Linked DNA regions of Homo sapiens. The protein of the gene in region 3 interacts with the protein of the main gene of each other region in a pairwise test. Each region holds a gene or a part of one and is shown on either strand. Other genes may lie near its edges.

Region 1 (3,711 bases), on a different chromosome or scaffold from region 3:
ATATTAAATTTGTCAACATTTTTATGGTTACCAGGAGTTCGAGACAAGCCTGGCCAACATGAAGAAACCCTGTCTCTACTAAAAACACAAAAATAAGCTGGGCATGGTGGCACGTGCCTGTATTCCCAGCTATTCGGGAGGCTGAGGCAGGAGAATTGCTTGAACCCGGGAGACGGCGGTTGCAGCAGACCGAGATCGCACCACTGCACTCTAGCCTGGGTGACAGAGTGAAGTTCGTTCATAAATAAATAAATAAATATACACATACATACATACATACATACATACATACATACATACATACATACAAATAATCCTGGGAAGGACCTCTGCACAACTTTCTTGTGTAACTCTAATTATTTCCTTAGGACAGGTTTCTGTTAGTCTATTCAATGTCCTTAAAAGGGTTCTATTGACCTGCACTTCTATCCAGAGTACTTCCATCACTCTTACATAAAAAAGCTGGTTTTGCAGCCATAAAAGAGAATGTGTCCTTTGCAGGGACATGGATGAAGCTGGACATCACTCTTACATAAAAAAGCTGGTTTTGCAGCCATAAAAAAGAATGAGTTCATGTCCTTTGCAGGGACATGGATGAAGCTGGAAACCATCATTCTTAGCAAACTAACACAGGAACAGAAAACCAAACACCACATGTTCTCACTCATAAGTGGGAGTTGAACAATGAGAACACATGGGACACAGGAAGAGGAACATCACACACCAGGGCTTGTTGGAATGTGGGGGTGAGGGGAGGGAGAGCATTAGGACAAATACCTAATGCATGTGGGGCTTAAAACCTAGATATCGGGTTGATAGTTTGCAACAAACCATCATGGCACATGTATACCTATGAAACAAACCTGCACACTCTGCACTTGTATCCCAGAATTTAAAGTAAAATTTAAAAAAAGAGGAAAAAAATAATTAAAATCAATCATATAGTATGTTAGAAGGTAATAATAATAATAATAATAATAAAAAGTGGTTTGAGATCCATAGTTAAAAAATAGTGAACTCAGGCCAGCTGCCATGGCTCATGCCTGTAATCCAGTGCTTTGGGAGGCTGAGGCTAGATCTCTTGAGGCCAGGAGTTTGAGACCAGCCTGGGCAACATAGCAAGACCCTGTCTCTACAAAAAATTTAAAAATTAGCTGGTTGTAGAGGTGCACACCTGTAGTTCTAGCTACTCAGGAGGCTGAGGTGGGAGGACCACTTGAGCCCCAGGAGTTTGAGGTTACAGTGAGGTATGATCGTGCCACTGCGCTATTGCCTGCATGACAGAGCAAGACCCCATTTCATTAAAAAAAACAAAAAACTCCCCTCTCCCTCTCCCTCTCCCCCCTCTCCCTCTCCCCACGGTCTCCCTCTCCCTCTCTTTCCACGGTCTCCCACTGATGCCGAGCCGAAGCTGGACTGTACTGCTGCCACCTCGGGTCACTGCAGCCTCCCTGCCTGATTCTCCTGCCTCAGCCTGCCGAGTGCCTGCGATTGCAGGTGCGCGCCACCACGCCTGACTGGTTTTCGTATTTTTTTGGTGGAGACGGGGTTTCGCTGTGTTGGCCGGGCTGGTCTCCAGCTCCTAACTGCGAGTGATCCGCCAGCCTCGGCCTCCAGAGGTGCCGGGATTGCAGATGGAGTCTGGTTCACTCAGTGCTCAATGGTGCCCAGGCTGGAGTGCAGTGGCGTGATCTCCGCTCGCTACAACCTCCACCTCCCAGCCGCCTGCCTTGGCCTCCCAAAGTGCCGAGATTGCAGCCTCTGCCCGGCCGCCACCCCGTCTGGGAAGTGAGGAGCGTCTCTGCCTGGCCGCCCATCGTCTGGGACGTGAGGAGCCCCTCTGCCTGGCTACCCAGTCTGGAAAATGAGGAGCGTCTCTGCCCGGCCGCCATCCCATCTAGGAAGTGAGGAGCACCTCTTCCCGGCCGCCATCCCATCTAGGAAGTGAGGAGCGTCTCTGCCCGGCCGCCCATCGTCTGAGATGTGGGGAGCGCCTCTGCCCCGCCGCCCCGTCTGGGATGTGAGGAGCGCCTCTGCCCGGCCGCGACCCCGTCTGGGAGGTGAGGAGCGTCTCTGCCCAGCCGCCCCATCTGAGAAGTGAGGAAACCCTCCGCCTGGCAACCGCCCCATATGAGAAGTGAGGAGCCTCTCCGCCCGGCAGCCACCCCGTCTGGTAAGTGAGGAGCGTCTCTGCCCGGCAGCCACCCCATCCGGGAGGGAGGTGGGGGTCAGCCCCCGCCCGGCCAGCCGCCCCGTCCGGGAGGGAGGTGGGGGGGTCAGCCCCCCGCCTGGCCAGCCGCCCCGTCCGGGAGGGAGGTGGGGGGGTCAGCCCCCCGCCCAGCCAGCCGCCCGGTCCGGGAGGTGAGGGGCGCCTCTGCCCGGCCGCCCCTACTGGGAAGTGAGGAGCCCCTCTGCCCAGCCACCACCCCGTCTGGGAGGTGTACCGAACAGCTCATTGAGAACGGGCCATGATGACAATGGCGGTTTTGTGGAATAGAAAGGGGGGAAAGGCGGGGAAAGGATTGAGAAATCGGATGGTTGCCGTGTCTGTGTAGAAAGAGGTAGACACGGGAGACTTTTCATTTTGTTCTGTACTAAGAAAAATTCTTCTGCCTTGTGATCCTGTTGATCGGTGACCCTACCCACAACCCTGTGCTCTCTGAAACGTGTGCTGTGTCCACTCAGGGTTAAATGGATTAAGGGCGGTGCAAGATGTGCTTTGTTAAACAGATGCTTGAAGGCAGCATGCTCGTTAAGAGTCATCACCACTCCCTAATCTCAAGTACCCAGGGACACAAACACTGCGGAAGGCCGCAGGGTCCTCTGCATAGGAAAACCAGAGACCTTTGTTCACTTGTTTATCTGCTGACCCTCCCTCCACTATTGTCCTATGACCCTGCCAAATCCCCCTCTGTGAGAAACACCCAAGAATGATCAATAAAGAATAAATAAATAAATAAATAAATAAATAAAAAACTGGACACCCTACTACCCACACCCACTTTAAGATATAGATTACAACCAACACCGTTAAAGCCCTTTTGCATGCCCTTCTCCATCCCAGCCCCCTCCTAAATTTTGTTTATAATGATCTCGCTTTTCTTCATAATTTTACCTCCAAAATATGCATCTGTAAACAATATGCTGTTTTTGCAAGCTTTTGAACATTATATAAAATAAATCATACTGCATGTTAAAAAAAAAAAAACAAAAACAAAAAACTCAAAGGTGCTCTTACCGAAATGATTTCAGATTCTTCTGTAACATCAGACAATGCCATGTCACGACGATAGCCCCAGGAAAACTTGTCAATGCTGGTGCACATCTCCCACTTGTGATCTGGCAAGCTCTGTGGCTTGAATTTATCTTCACAGTTATAGTATCCTCCATGGTGACAGGAACAGTTCTGACCCCATCGGTCATTTACTACCACCTCATCCTAAGGAGGGAAAGAATATTTGGTCATGAGGAGTAAAACCACTTGACTTCTTTATGTAATACACTTTGGTAAGGCTCTATTTGGAAGCAAGAAACTTAGTCTAGAGCAGTGGCTGTCAACTGGGGGCAATTTTGCTCTGGAGGGGACATTTGGTAAAGTCTAGAGACATTTTTGATTGTCACAACGGGGGTGGTATGCCATCTAGTGGGTAGAGACCAGGGATGTTACTAAACGTCCTACAATGCACAGGACAGCCCCCACAGCAAAGAAAT
Region 2 (3,711 bases), on a different chromosome or scaffold from region 3:
ATACTGCAGGCACAGGGCAATTTACAGCAATGAGGGATTTGTATATGAAGAATGGCCAAGGTTTTGCACTAGTATATTCAGTCCACGTTTGACTTACAGGACCTGAGGGAACAGATTTTACTGGTTAAGGACACAGAAGATGTTCCAATGATTTTGGTTGGCAATAAATGTGACCTGGAAGATGAGTGAGTAGTTGGCAAAGAACAGGGCCAGAATTTAGCATGACAGTGATGGAACTGTGCCATTTTAGAATAATCTGCAAAGTCAAAGGTCAATGTTAATGAAATATTTTATGACCTGGTCAGACAGATAAATAGAAAAACACCAGTGGAAAAGAAACAGCCTAAAAAGAAATCATGTCTGCTGCTCTAGGCCCATAGTCAGCAGCAGCTCTGAGCTAGGTTACAGGAATGAAGAACTATTGCCTAATTGGAAAGTGCCAGCATTCCAGACTTCAAAAAATAAATTTGAAGAGGCTTCTCCTGTTTTATACATTATGTGAAGAATTTAGATCTTATATTGGTTTGTATAAGTTCCCTGGAGAAAAAAAACTGCTCTGTGTATATCTCTTGGAAAATAAGACATAACAGATGTGAAAATATACTTGACTCTAATATGATTATACAAAAGAGCATGGATGCATTTCAAATGTTAGATATTGCTACTATAATCAAATGATTTCATATTGACCTTTTTATCATGATTCCTCCCTATCAAGCACTAAAAAGTTGAACCATCATACTTTATATCTGTAATGATATTGATATTGCAGTAGATAACTTTTTTGAATCAATTACCTCATTTTATATTTTAAAAATTATGGAATATCCTCTGTCATTATATTCTAATTGAAATTGTGCATAATGCTTTGGAAAAATGGGTCTTTTATAGGAAAAAAACTGGGGTAACTGATTTCTACGACTTTCAAAGCTAAAATATACAATATACTAAACCAACTCTAATATTGCTTCTTGTGTTTTACTGTCAGATTAAATTACAGTTCTTATGTATGATTAAATTTTAGTATATTAAAAAACAAATGGCATCATTAGGCCCAGGCTAACCATCAGGTCATAGTGAAAGAATGAAGAGACACAGAGAAAAAGACCTGCCCTACCTCCTGATGCCTAACACCGCACCTATCTCCTTTCCCTCGGGCTTCTTCTTCATCATAGAGATAAGGGGCCCTTTACCCCCATCTCTGCTTCTTGCCCACTGCCCTCAGAACTCTAATCCAGTCCCAAGGCCTCCCGTGTCCTCAATAATGGTATCACTTACAGAGGGATATTCGCTTTTCACTGGTAGTTTATTCAGGTAGCTATAGGTCTTGTCTTTTTGGATAGGGCAGTTAATTCCACTCTTACAACCATCAGGCTCAGGAATGGGAAAGGGAACTGGGACGCCCATCAGGATGCCATGCACCACGGCCTTGCTGCTTTTAGACTGAATATCTAAGAGAAAAAAAGAGAATCAGATGGCAAAGAAAATAACCTATTTTCAAACTCTAAATCAAAAATTCAGAAATAATCCCAAGCAACAGCATTCCTAGGGTCTATTTCTCTTGATAGTGGTGCTTGGTACTAGCACAGTGCAAGCATTCACTCCAAACACAATTATGCAAAAAAAAAAAAAAAAAAAAAAACAATCAGCAGAAGTTTTCTTTGCTCTTAACCTTGCTCTTCATGGCCCTTCACAGTTTCTTAGGAGAATCAGAGATACCTGGATAAACAACCTTATCTAACAAGGCAACTGATTTTTGGCAGTAAACTTTCTGTTTGCTATTTATATCAGCTTCTGTCCAAGTATATTGTGTGTCTTAAATGTCATGGTCTGTAACAACAGTGAAAGAGGTAACCCTTTAGCAGGGTAAGATTAGGCTGGATCACAGTAGCTCCCACCTGTAATCCCAGCACTTTGGGAGGCTGAGGCGGGTGGATCATCTGAGGTCAGGAGTTTGAGACCAGCCTGGCCAACATGGAAAAACCCTGTCTCTACTAAAACTACAAAAATTAGCCGGGCGTGGTGGCGCATGCCTGTCATCTCAGCTACTCAAGAGGCTGAGGCGGGAGAATCGCTTGAGCCCAGGAGGCGGAGGTTGCAGTGTGCTGAGATTGCGCCACTGCACTCCAGCCTGGGTGACAGAGCGAGACTCTGTCACAAAAAAAAAAAAAAAAAAAAAAAAAAAAAAGAAATTGGGTAAGATTAGAAAGACATGCAATTCTTTATAAACTTTACCCTCCACATCACAAGATGGCCAGGAGGAATAAAGGTATTAAAAAATGAGGGCAATCAGACTTATGAGTTATTAGGGTATTTTGGAGACCCAGAAAATTGGTTCTGTTTCTTTCCTTCTGTCTGGGTTGGGGATGACTTGTTCAGAAGGCTTTTTTTTTTGGTTTGGAACAATAGAGAGGCCAGGGTATAGTCCAGAGAGGAAACAGGGAGCTAGTACTTAGAGCTGTCTTTAGGCTTATGAACAAAAGATGACAGGAACTTTGAGGTTTCTTATTAGACTGTCTAGTCTAGTTTCACAGGACAGAAAATGAGGAAAAGATTCAAGGAACATGCCCTGCTTAGTAATAAAAGATTTTACATTTGTCTAGATTCTTAAAAATCTCAAAGTGATGTGGTACAAGAAAGCAAAAAGTTCCAATGATATTTCTTGAATATTGGAGAAGAAAGCTCAGATTTCTTGGCTATTTCTTGGGTCCCCAGTGGGTTCCCTAAATCTTAAGGAGGCTGTTAAGTATTAGTTGCACCTTTATTTTCAGGTGGGATGTAGACTTAATAGCTGAAAGGCATTACTGCTTAAAACAACATTTTGGAGGAGTTCCAAAGCTTAAAGAATTGGGGTCCATACTAATACTCTGCAGTCTGTAGCTAAACAGAGCTGACATTCCCATCATAGCCTACTATGCAATATGGGTCAAGACAGAAAAGCCAAGCTGTCTTCTCTAACCTGTGAACACATGGACATCTCCCTGTTTGCTTAAAGGGAGTCTGGGAGCCATGGACCCTGCATGAGAAGGGTGTCCAAGGGCACAGTGAACCCTAGCTTTGCATGAGGTGCAAAAGAAATCATAAAATTCATGACTGCCAATTCCCCTCCCCTCCATTCCCATGCTTATTCCAACACTTGATATTTAGGTTATGCTGTAACATGAATTTGAGTTAAGAGCCACTTTTACGCACTGCTGGTGAAGGTGACATTGACGCTGTAAGACTGTCCTTTGCTCAGCTGGCAGGGTTGGGTGGGGCATGGGCTCACATTCACTTCCTTTATAACTCCATCCACAGAACCTGCAAAAGAAAAATGAATTGGAATAGGAGAATAGGAGGAGAAATAAGCCAGCTAGGCTGCCCACCACCTAATGGGAAGGTGCTCTGCTCTCCCATTTAGGGTCAACTCATTCTCCTCGGACTGTTTCCCAGGATGGAATCTTTAAGAATAATGCCCAATTAGAAGTCAGAATCTTGATTCATCTTGCTGCTAAAATCATAGCCTTTAATTCAGATGATAAAGAAGCTAGTTGGTTTTTTGATCAAGAGAAAGTTAATATTTGTCAAACTAAATAATATCAAGACCATATCCATAAATGATCATATTAAAGGAATTAAACTTCAATCAGAGAAATTCCAAACATTCCTAGAGTCTTATCTCGCATTCTTAATGGTAAGGGTCACAGTTTAAACTTAAACCTTGAAGACGTT
Region 3 (3,711 bases):
AGAGCATGTGAAGGAAGCGCAGCAGCTCCTCGCCAGCCAGACAGCCAGCCCCGCACCGCAGGAGTCGACATGCACGGCAGCCTAGACGCCATCAGTTAAACTTATATGTAGGCTTGTTGAGGAAAACGACTTTCAAACACAAGGCAAAAGAAAAACATGAAACCAAGGGTTCCAACATTCATCATCCAGTTTCAGAGACACCCTTGAAGGAATGCTACAGCCTCTTTCTTACCCATTCAAACCAGTCGCTCTGCTGCATACCCACATCACAGGAGGCCCTCAGCCCCGACACACAGGCTCACTCAGCCCGGGGACATCAGCACCTGTGCCAGCTCCGCAAGGTATCCACCATGCGGCCAGAACTGAGGCCCAGCAATAGCTGAAATGTCCTTTAAATTAACATGTACAACACACAACCCCCAAGAGCTGACATCCCCAAAGCCCCACCACAAATAGCTGACTCCTACTTATACCTGCAGGAGCAGGTAGTGACCTCTGCAATTCTAAACCGTCCACTTTGGGCAAAATTCATCAAGCTATGGATATGAAAAAAGGCCCCCAAGGTAATACTCATAAGTCTCCTGTATGACTTTTAAAGCAATTTCTTCTGAAAGTAAATGTAGTGTAGAACAGGCTTTCACAAATACAAACATGAATGTTAGGAAAAAGTCTGGAAAAAATGCAAGAGTACATGTTGTATAAAAACCAAATGCTTATAGCATATCTGTAAAAATTTAACAGGCCTCTTATCATTCCTATCAGTAGCTCCTACAATAATTTTCTAATAGATGGCGGTATGGAATACAGCAAGCTCTGGTATGAATGGTAAGAGCGTTTCTGCACCAAGCCTCATTCCAACTAGACAGGCTATTTATTTATGGCTAAACATGACATTGGATTCTGGGACTGAGGCAAATTTTACTTCTTTTTTTTTTTTTTTTTTTTTAAAGACAGAGTTTCGCTCTTGTTGCCCAGGCTGTAGTGCAATGGCGCGATATTGGCTCACTGCAACCCCTGCCTCCCAGGTTCAAGTGATTCTCCTGCCTCACCAAGTAGCTGTGATTACAGGTACCCGCCACCATGGCCAGCTAATTTTTTCTATTTTTAGTAGAGCCAGGGTTTCACCATGTTGGCCAGGCTGGTCTCGAACTCCTGATCTCAGGTGATCCACCTGTCTTGGCCTCCCGTGCTGGGATTATAGGCATGAGCCACCACGTCCGGCCAAATTTTACTTCTTAAAAGTGCTTTTCTCTCAGTGATATCAAGGTCTTCTGTCTACTATTATAACCATAAGCTCTTTAGCGTTAAGAGGAAAATGTTTGATAAATGTAATTAACTGGATGAATGTCAGTGTATTTAAATGTAAATATACTTAAATGTAATTACCTGGATGAAACAGGCACACACGAAGAAAAAAAAACTCGGCAAGGATGGGTATCATTCTGACCTCTGCGCCTTACTGAAGCAGTCCTATCCCAAACACAAAATTCCCCTGCTTAAGGAAAGGTCCACTGAGGTTGACACTGGTCAGAGGTGGCAGAGGCTCCCACCCTCACAGAGAGGAGGAGCTCCAGCCTCATTGCAGGAGGCCCAGGGAGAAGTCCTGAGAACAGCCCTGAGAGAAGGTGCTCTGCAATGGGAAACGGAAGTGGAAACAGAATTTTCCCATAAGGACCTGTAAGGCATGTTTTGCTTCACTGATAGGCTGTTCCTACATTAAAATAATAATTCAGAGATTTTTAATAAGGAATTCAAATAACAGATGATGAGCTTTATTTTTTCCTGAATGTCTGAAATAGAAAAAAGCCTAGGTGTCAATATTCTAAAGACTGACCTTTGCATTTTCCTGACATGTTGATGAAGTATTCATTCTGCCGCTTCCATTTAGTAGTAATTTATCTCCCATCCCAAAGTTCCTGAGTACAAAGACTATATACGAACTAAATTTCATTTGGAAAACTACAAACTCAAAGGTGAGCTGATAAAAAGAAACATATATTTATTTTTGCAATTATTTTCTATTTTATCTAATTGTCAAATTCTTTAATACCTCCATAAACTAGACAGTATAGATCCTTTCTAATTAACATCACCTATTAAAACTGAACTCTCAGTAAGTTAAGAGAATATTTTTACTAGCAACTCAAATGAATATTCTGAAGAGAAAAGAATTGTTCACTGCATAAATCACAATAGCAAAGAAAGGAAAAATGGCTTGCAAAACAGGAAAGGTACTGCCTTATTAACCTGGGAAATCCATTTCATATCTAACCCGTCTACTTTTTAATTCTCTTTTGGAAAGGATATGATTCATAGTCCAGCGTTTGAGTGAGCACTCCAGTCAGAACGAACTCTGCATTGTGAACATCTGAACAGGGTGGAAACAGACACTTTAGTTAGAGATCCACTGCTGTGCGTGCACACATACTCACACAGGTAAGCGGGGAAACGTACCTATGCCTCTGGCAAAATATTCTCGGCATAAATGAAGGTCATTTTCACAGGATATTAAAATTATTTCCGACAAACTCTAAGGAAAAGAAAATGAGTTTCTCAGTGACCGAACGCTGAATGTGATACAGGGCAATGACGGACTCGCTGGCGGACTCCACTCTACCCACCGAGTTCTGCTTGTGCTCCATGAGCTTCCGGAAAGATGGCTGCTTGGATAACACCTTTCCTCCTGCACACTCTACGATTGCCTTCATAGTGGAAAGACTTGGGCAGATTCCAGGTGTGATGTAAAAATATTTTGCCTAAAATTAAATGAAAATATATGTATTATGTTCTTAAAATGCTTTAATTTTTAGAGTACATAATTCTCATAGATTCTGCCCTGAGATTTTTGACAAAATTTCAAATTTTATGACATTATGAAGGTACTATTCTCCTACTAGCACTCAATCTGAAGTGGAAGAGGAATCCAGCTATGTAAATTTGGAATGTAAGCATTTTCACATGTTAAGTATGCCTGAAGATGATTTAAAGTAACCAGAACTTAAGTCCCTAAAACAAAGTGTTTTGTGAATAAGCAAGAATATTACAAATATTTTTCACAATTTCTATACAATTTTAAATCAGCATTATATTTCACCACACTTATCTGCCCAGCAACAGCCTCTGGCATAGCATGCTGCCTGGCTTATATCCCTTTTCTTTATTTTCTCCATATTATTTGAACTCAGAGCAGGAAATGATATTGATGCTTAAGATTTAATTATCTAACAAGATTGCTCCTGAGGATACCACAAAATACTATTCTGTCTGAAACTGCAAATAATTTCTAATTCCTGTTGACTCCTTAAGAAGGTTAAAGAACCGATTATCTTTATTGATTTACTTAGTTCTTTGGTACAAAAAAAATTCCTAGCTGTTCTAACACTTATCTAACATTTAAAAATCTTTTAGTACTGAATTATATCTATGCACACACTGAATATTTTCCCAAGTATCTTCTCCAGCTGAATATACATTTACTGACAATAGTACGAAGTAAGCGATGTCCTCTAAAGATTTATTAAAAGCAGAAAAATGAACATGCCTCTTAACCAATTACTCAAAAACCTATTCTTTGAATAACTTATTTCTCATAGATGTATTTATTAAATTTGTGTACTTATTTTTAAACATTATAGTAAAGAAAAGTTCTCTAGAGATGTGCTGTGGTTCACAGGAGGAAGACCTCCAGTGGCAATGTCCAAGAAGGAAGCC
Region 4 (3,711 bases), on a different chromosome or scaffold from region 3:
TCTCCTGACTCAGCCTCCCGAGTAGCTGGGACTACAGGAGCCTGCCACCATGCCCGGCTAATTTTTTTGTATTTTTAGTAGAGACGGGGTTTCACTGTGTTAGCCAGGATGGTCTCGATCTCCTGACCTCGTGATCCACCCGCCTCGGCCTCCCAAAGTGCTGTGATTACAGGCGTGAGCCACCGCACCCAGCCCGAAAAACATTTTAAAATGTGTAAGACAGGCACAGGGGCTCACGCCTGTAATCCATGCACTTTGGGAAGCCAAGGTGGGCGGATCACTTGAGATCAGGAGCTTGAGACCAGCCTGGCCAACATGGCAAAACCCTGTCTCTACTAAAAATACAAAAATTAGCCAGGCATGATGGTGCGTGCCTATAGTCCCAGCTACTCAGGAGGTTGAGGCATGAGAACTGCTTGAACCTGGGAGGTGGAGGTTACAGTGAGCCGAGATCGTGCCACTGCACTGCAGCCTGGGCAACAGAGCAAGAGACTCTGTCTCCAAAAAATAAAAATAAAAACATAAAATGTCTAGTGTGGCTGGAAGAGGCAGATTACACCTGTAATCACAGTACTTTGGGAGGCCAAGATGGGAGGACTGCTTGAACCCAGGAATTTGAGACCAGCCTGGGCAACATAGCAAGACCCTATCTTAAATTTTTTTTTTTTTTTAATTAATAGGGTGGGCCTGGTGGCTCATGCCTGTAATCCCAGCACTTTGGGAGACTGCGGCAGACAGATTGCTCGAGTCCAGGAATTTGAGACCAGCCTGGGCAACATGGGGAAACCCCATCTCTACAAAAATTAGCTGGGCATGGTGGCATATGCCTGTAGTCCAAGCTACTCAGGAGGCTGAGGTGGGAGGATCACTTGATCCCAAGAGGTGGAGGTAGAGTGAGCCGTGACTGCACCACTGTACTCCAGACTAGGCAACAGAGTAAGACTCTGTCCCAAAAAAACCAAAATTCAAAAAAAAAAGACCAAAAAAAAATTTTTTTTAAAGGGTCATTTCTCGGGCAGGCACAGTGGCTCATGCCTTGTAATCCCAGCAGTTTGGGAGGATCATGAGGTCAGGAATTTGAGACTAGCCTGGCCTACATGGTCAAACCCTGTCTCTACTAAAAATACAAAAATTAGCCGGGTATGGTGGCACGTGCCTGTAATCCCAGCTAGCCGGGGGGCTGAGGCAAGGGAATTGCTTGAACCCGGGAGGCAGAGGTTGCAGTGAGCCAAGATTGCGCCACTGCACTCCAGCCTGGGTGACAGAGCAAGACTCCATCCCAAAAATAAAATAAAATAAAATAAAAAGGGTCATTTCTCTAATGAGAACAAAGCTGTAGTTTGGGGAGGAGGGTTTAACTGTGCTGGTGCCACTGACTTCACAAATATTATATCATCTCAAATTATTTATATACTTTCTAGCTGCCTGCCAGTCAAATCTAGGACTCATCATAAGTATTAGGGGATCATTATTTAATTTATAAGAAAAATTATGTTTTTTTAATCCCAAAGGCAAAGGAAAAGTATATTCCAATTTAAGATACTTTTTTCAAGCCATAGGGAACACACATTAAAATTGGAGTCAGAACTATAAAGCCAGGGATATTTCTGAATATCTCTTAGCATGAAAAAAAGAAACTCTGGTGTCTGTAACTCAAGGAACCAGTGCAAATATAGTCCCTGTACTTGCCTCCCTCTCTTCCCTTCACAACCCTCCCACTGTTATAGAAATAAACTCTCACCTCTGGGGTATCTAAGATTTGTTTAACTTGCAGGATATTAGTGATATGCCAAGTATACTTGGAAAAGGTTCCCAGTGGCAAGGCATCTTTCCGAACAAAAGCTTCAACGTGAAAAAAGGACAAAATTAGATTACCAAAAAATAACATTTTCTTTTGTTGTATTTGTTACCTAGTTTCTAATACAGTACTATTATTTCCTTATAGATTCTCAGCACTTTTAAAAAGAAATTCTAGAGGCAAATATATAAAAGGTTTTGGTGACAAATCAGTTGATGTAGATAATTGATATGCTGATCATTGAAGGCTTTGTGCTCCAGACATGTGAGTAGAAGTCCTAACTCTGAATACTCACGGTGAATATTCCACACAGATTTTTTCCAAACATAATTCTCTATGTTCGAGACATCCATCACTATACCAAAGGGAAATCCTGTACCTGTGGTGGAGTTGGGGAGCCGTTTTTTTGCACTTCCTATAGATATTCTTTGTTGCAGGGCATCAAAAAATGACTGAGGAATGTGGAACACCAATGGTTCTGGTTTGCCTATGGGAAACAAGAAGAAACAACTCATTTAAAGAAACTCAGTGGACTTTCTGATGTACAGGGAGAGGTGAAAGAAAAGGAATCAAGGGACGGTAATAACTAAAAATACCACTGAGATTTCTTTATACAGAGGCAAAAAGAAGGCTTTGATTGACCTTTCTGGGCCAAGAACTGTCACTAGTCCTACTGTTGATCCCTTGCAAACATAAAAAACACAGTGTAGCCTGGGCAACAAAGAAAGACCCAGTGTCTATAAAAAAAAATTTTTTTTTTGAGATGGAGTCTCACTCTGTTGCCCAGGCTGGAGTGCAATGGCATGATCTCGGCTCACTGCAACCTCTGCCTCCCGGGTTCAAGCAATCCTCCTGCCTCAGCCTCCTGAGTAGCTGTGACTACAGGCGTGCACCACCACGCCTGGCTAATTTTTGTATTTTTAGTAGAGATGGGGTTTCACCATGTTGGCCAGGCTGGTCTCAAACTCCTGACCTCGTGATCCACCCACCTCGGCCACCCAAAGTGCTGGGATTACAGGCGTGAGCCACCGTGCCTGGCCAAAATTTTTTTTTAAATTAGCCAGGCGTGGTGGTATGCACCTGCTGTCCCAGCTACTTGGGAGGCTGAGGTGGGAGGATCAACTGAGTCGAGGAGGTTGAGGCTGCAGTAAGCCATGATCACGCCACTGCACTCCAGCCTGGGCAACAGAGTGAGACCCTCCCTCAAAAAGGAAAAAAAAAGAAAAGAAAAGAGAGGCCAGGCGTGGTGACTCACACCTGTAATCCCAGCACTTTGGGAGGCCGAGGTGGGTGGATTACCTGAGGTCAGGAGTTCGAGACCAGCTTGGCCAACATGGTGAAAACCCATCTCTACTAAAAAAAAAAAAAAAAAAAAAAATTAGCTGGGCATGGTGGTGTGTGCCTGTAATTCCAGCTACTCAGGAAGCTGAGGCAGGAGAATCGCTTGAACCCAGGAGGCAGAGGTTGCAGTGAGCCGAGATCATGCCACTGCACTCTAGCTTGGGCAACAGGGTGAGACTCCACTGAAAAAAAAGAAAAAAGACAATGAAAAAACAAACCAACACAGTAGACCCTTGTCATCCACCAAGTATAACATTTCAAATCCGCAAATTTTAAAAAGACCAACACAGCACAGACTTTCCCCCTTAAAGGGTATGCGAAGTAAGATGGGATGAGAACAATGAGGCCGAGGTGGCTGCCTCCACTTGATTCCCTTTTGCTCGCTATCCCCAGGTTCTTGCTATTTGCATTCATGTCTAAGCAAACTAATGACATGCTCTCTCACCCGATGGTCAGCACCATGAATGCTGAGGGACTACAAGTTAGGACACTGCTTACCCAGCAAGCATCTGTCTTTCTCTCTGAATATGACCTCAAGGCAGGTAAAATACTTGAAAGTACTTAACCAACCT

The links.
Region 1: the proteins of PAXIP1 (region 3) and FUCA1 interact in a two-hybrid assay, tested with the Homo sapiens proteins (one large-scale study listed by BioGRID).
Region 2: the proteins of PAXIP1 (region 3) and NPC2 interact in a two-hybrid assay, tested with the Homo sapiens proteins (one large-scale study listed by BioGRID).
Region 4: the proteins of PAXIP1 (region 3) and C2orf42 interact in a two-hybrid assay, tested with the Homo sapiens proteins (one large-scale study listed by BioGRID).

The regions. Positions count from the first base shown.
Region 1 is NC_000001.11:23,851,122-23,854,832, forward strand, and holds part of FUCA1 (tissue alpha-L-fucosidase precursor), read right to left. Parts: intron 3,440-3,711; coding exon 3,239-3,439; intron 1-3,238. UniProt on the Homo sapiens protein: Alpha-L-fucosidase is responsible for hydrolyzing the alpha-1,6-linked fucose joined to the reducing-end N-acetylglucosamine of the carbohydrate moieties of glycoproteins.
Region 2 is NC_000014.9:74,483,137-74,486,847, forward strand, and holds part of NPC2 (NPC intracellular cholesterol transporter 2 isoform 2 precursor), read right to left. Parts: intron 3,301-3,711; coding exon 3,193-3,300; intron 1,452-3,192; coding exon 1,279-1,451; intron 1-1,278. UniProt on the Homo sapiens protein: Intracellular cholesterol transporter which acts in concert with NPC1 and plays an important role in the egress of cholesterol from the lysosomal compartment.
Region 3 is NC_000007.14:154,944,058-154,947,768, forward strand, and holds part of PAXIP1 (PAX-interacting protein 1), read right to left. Parts: exon of another isoform or gene 3,636-3,711; intron 2,796-3,635; exon of another isoform or gene 2,757-2,795; coding exon 2,622-2,756; exon of another isoform or gene 2,536-2,621; intron 2,531-2,535; coding exon 2,455-2,530; intron 2,437-2,454; exon of another isoform or gene 2,369-2,436; coding exon 2,308-2,368; exon of another isoform or gene 2,303-2,307; intron 564-2,302; exon of another isoform or gene 108-563; coding exon 92-107; 3' UTR 1-91.
Region 4 is NC_000002.12:70,163,351-70,167,061, forward strand, and holds part of C2orf42 (uncharacterized protein C2orf42), read right to left. Parts: intron 2,286-3,711; coding exon 2,178-2,285; intron 1,843-2,177; coding exon 1,742-1,842; intron 1-1,741.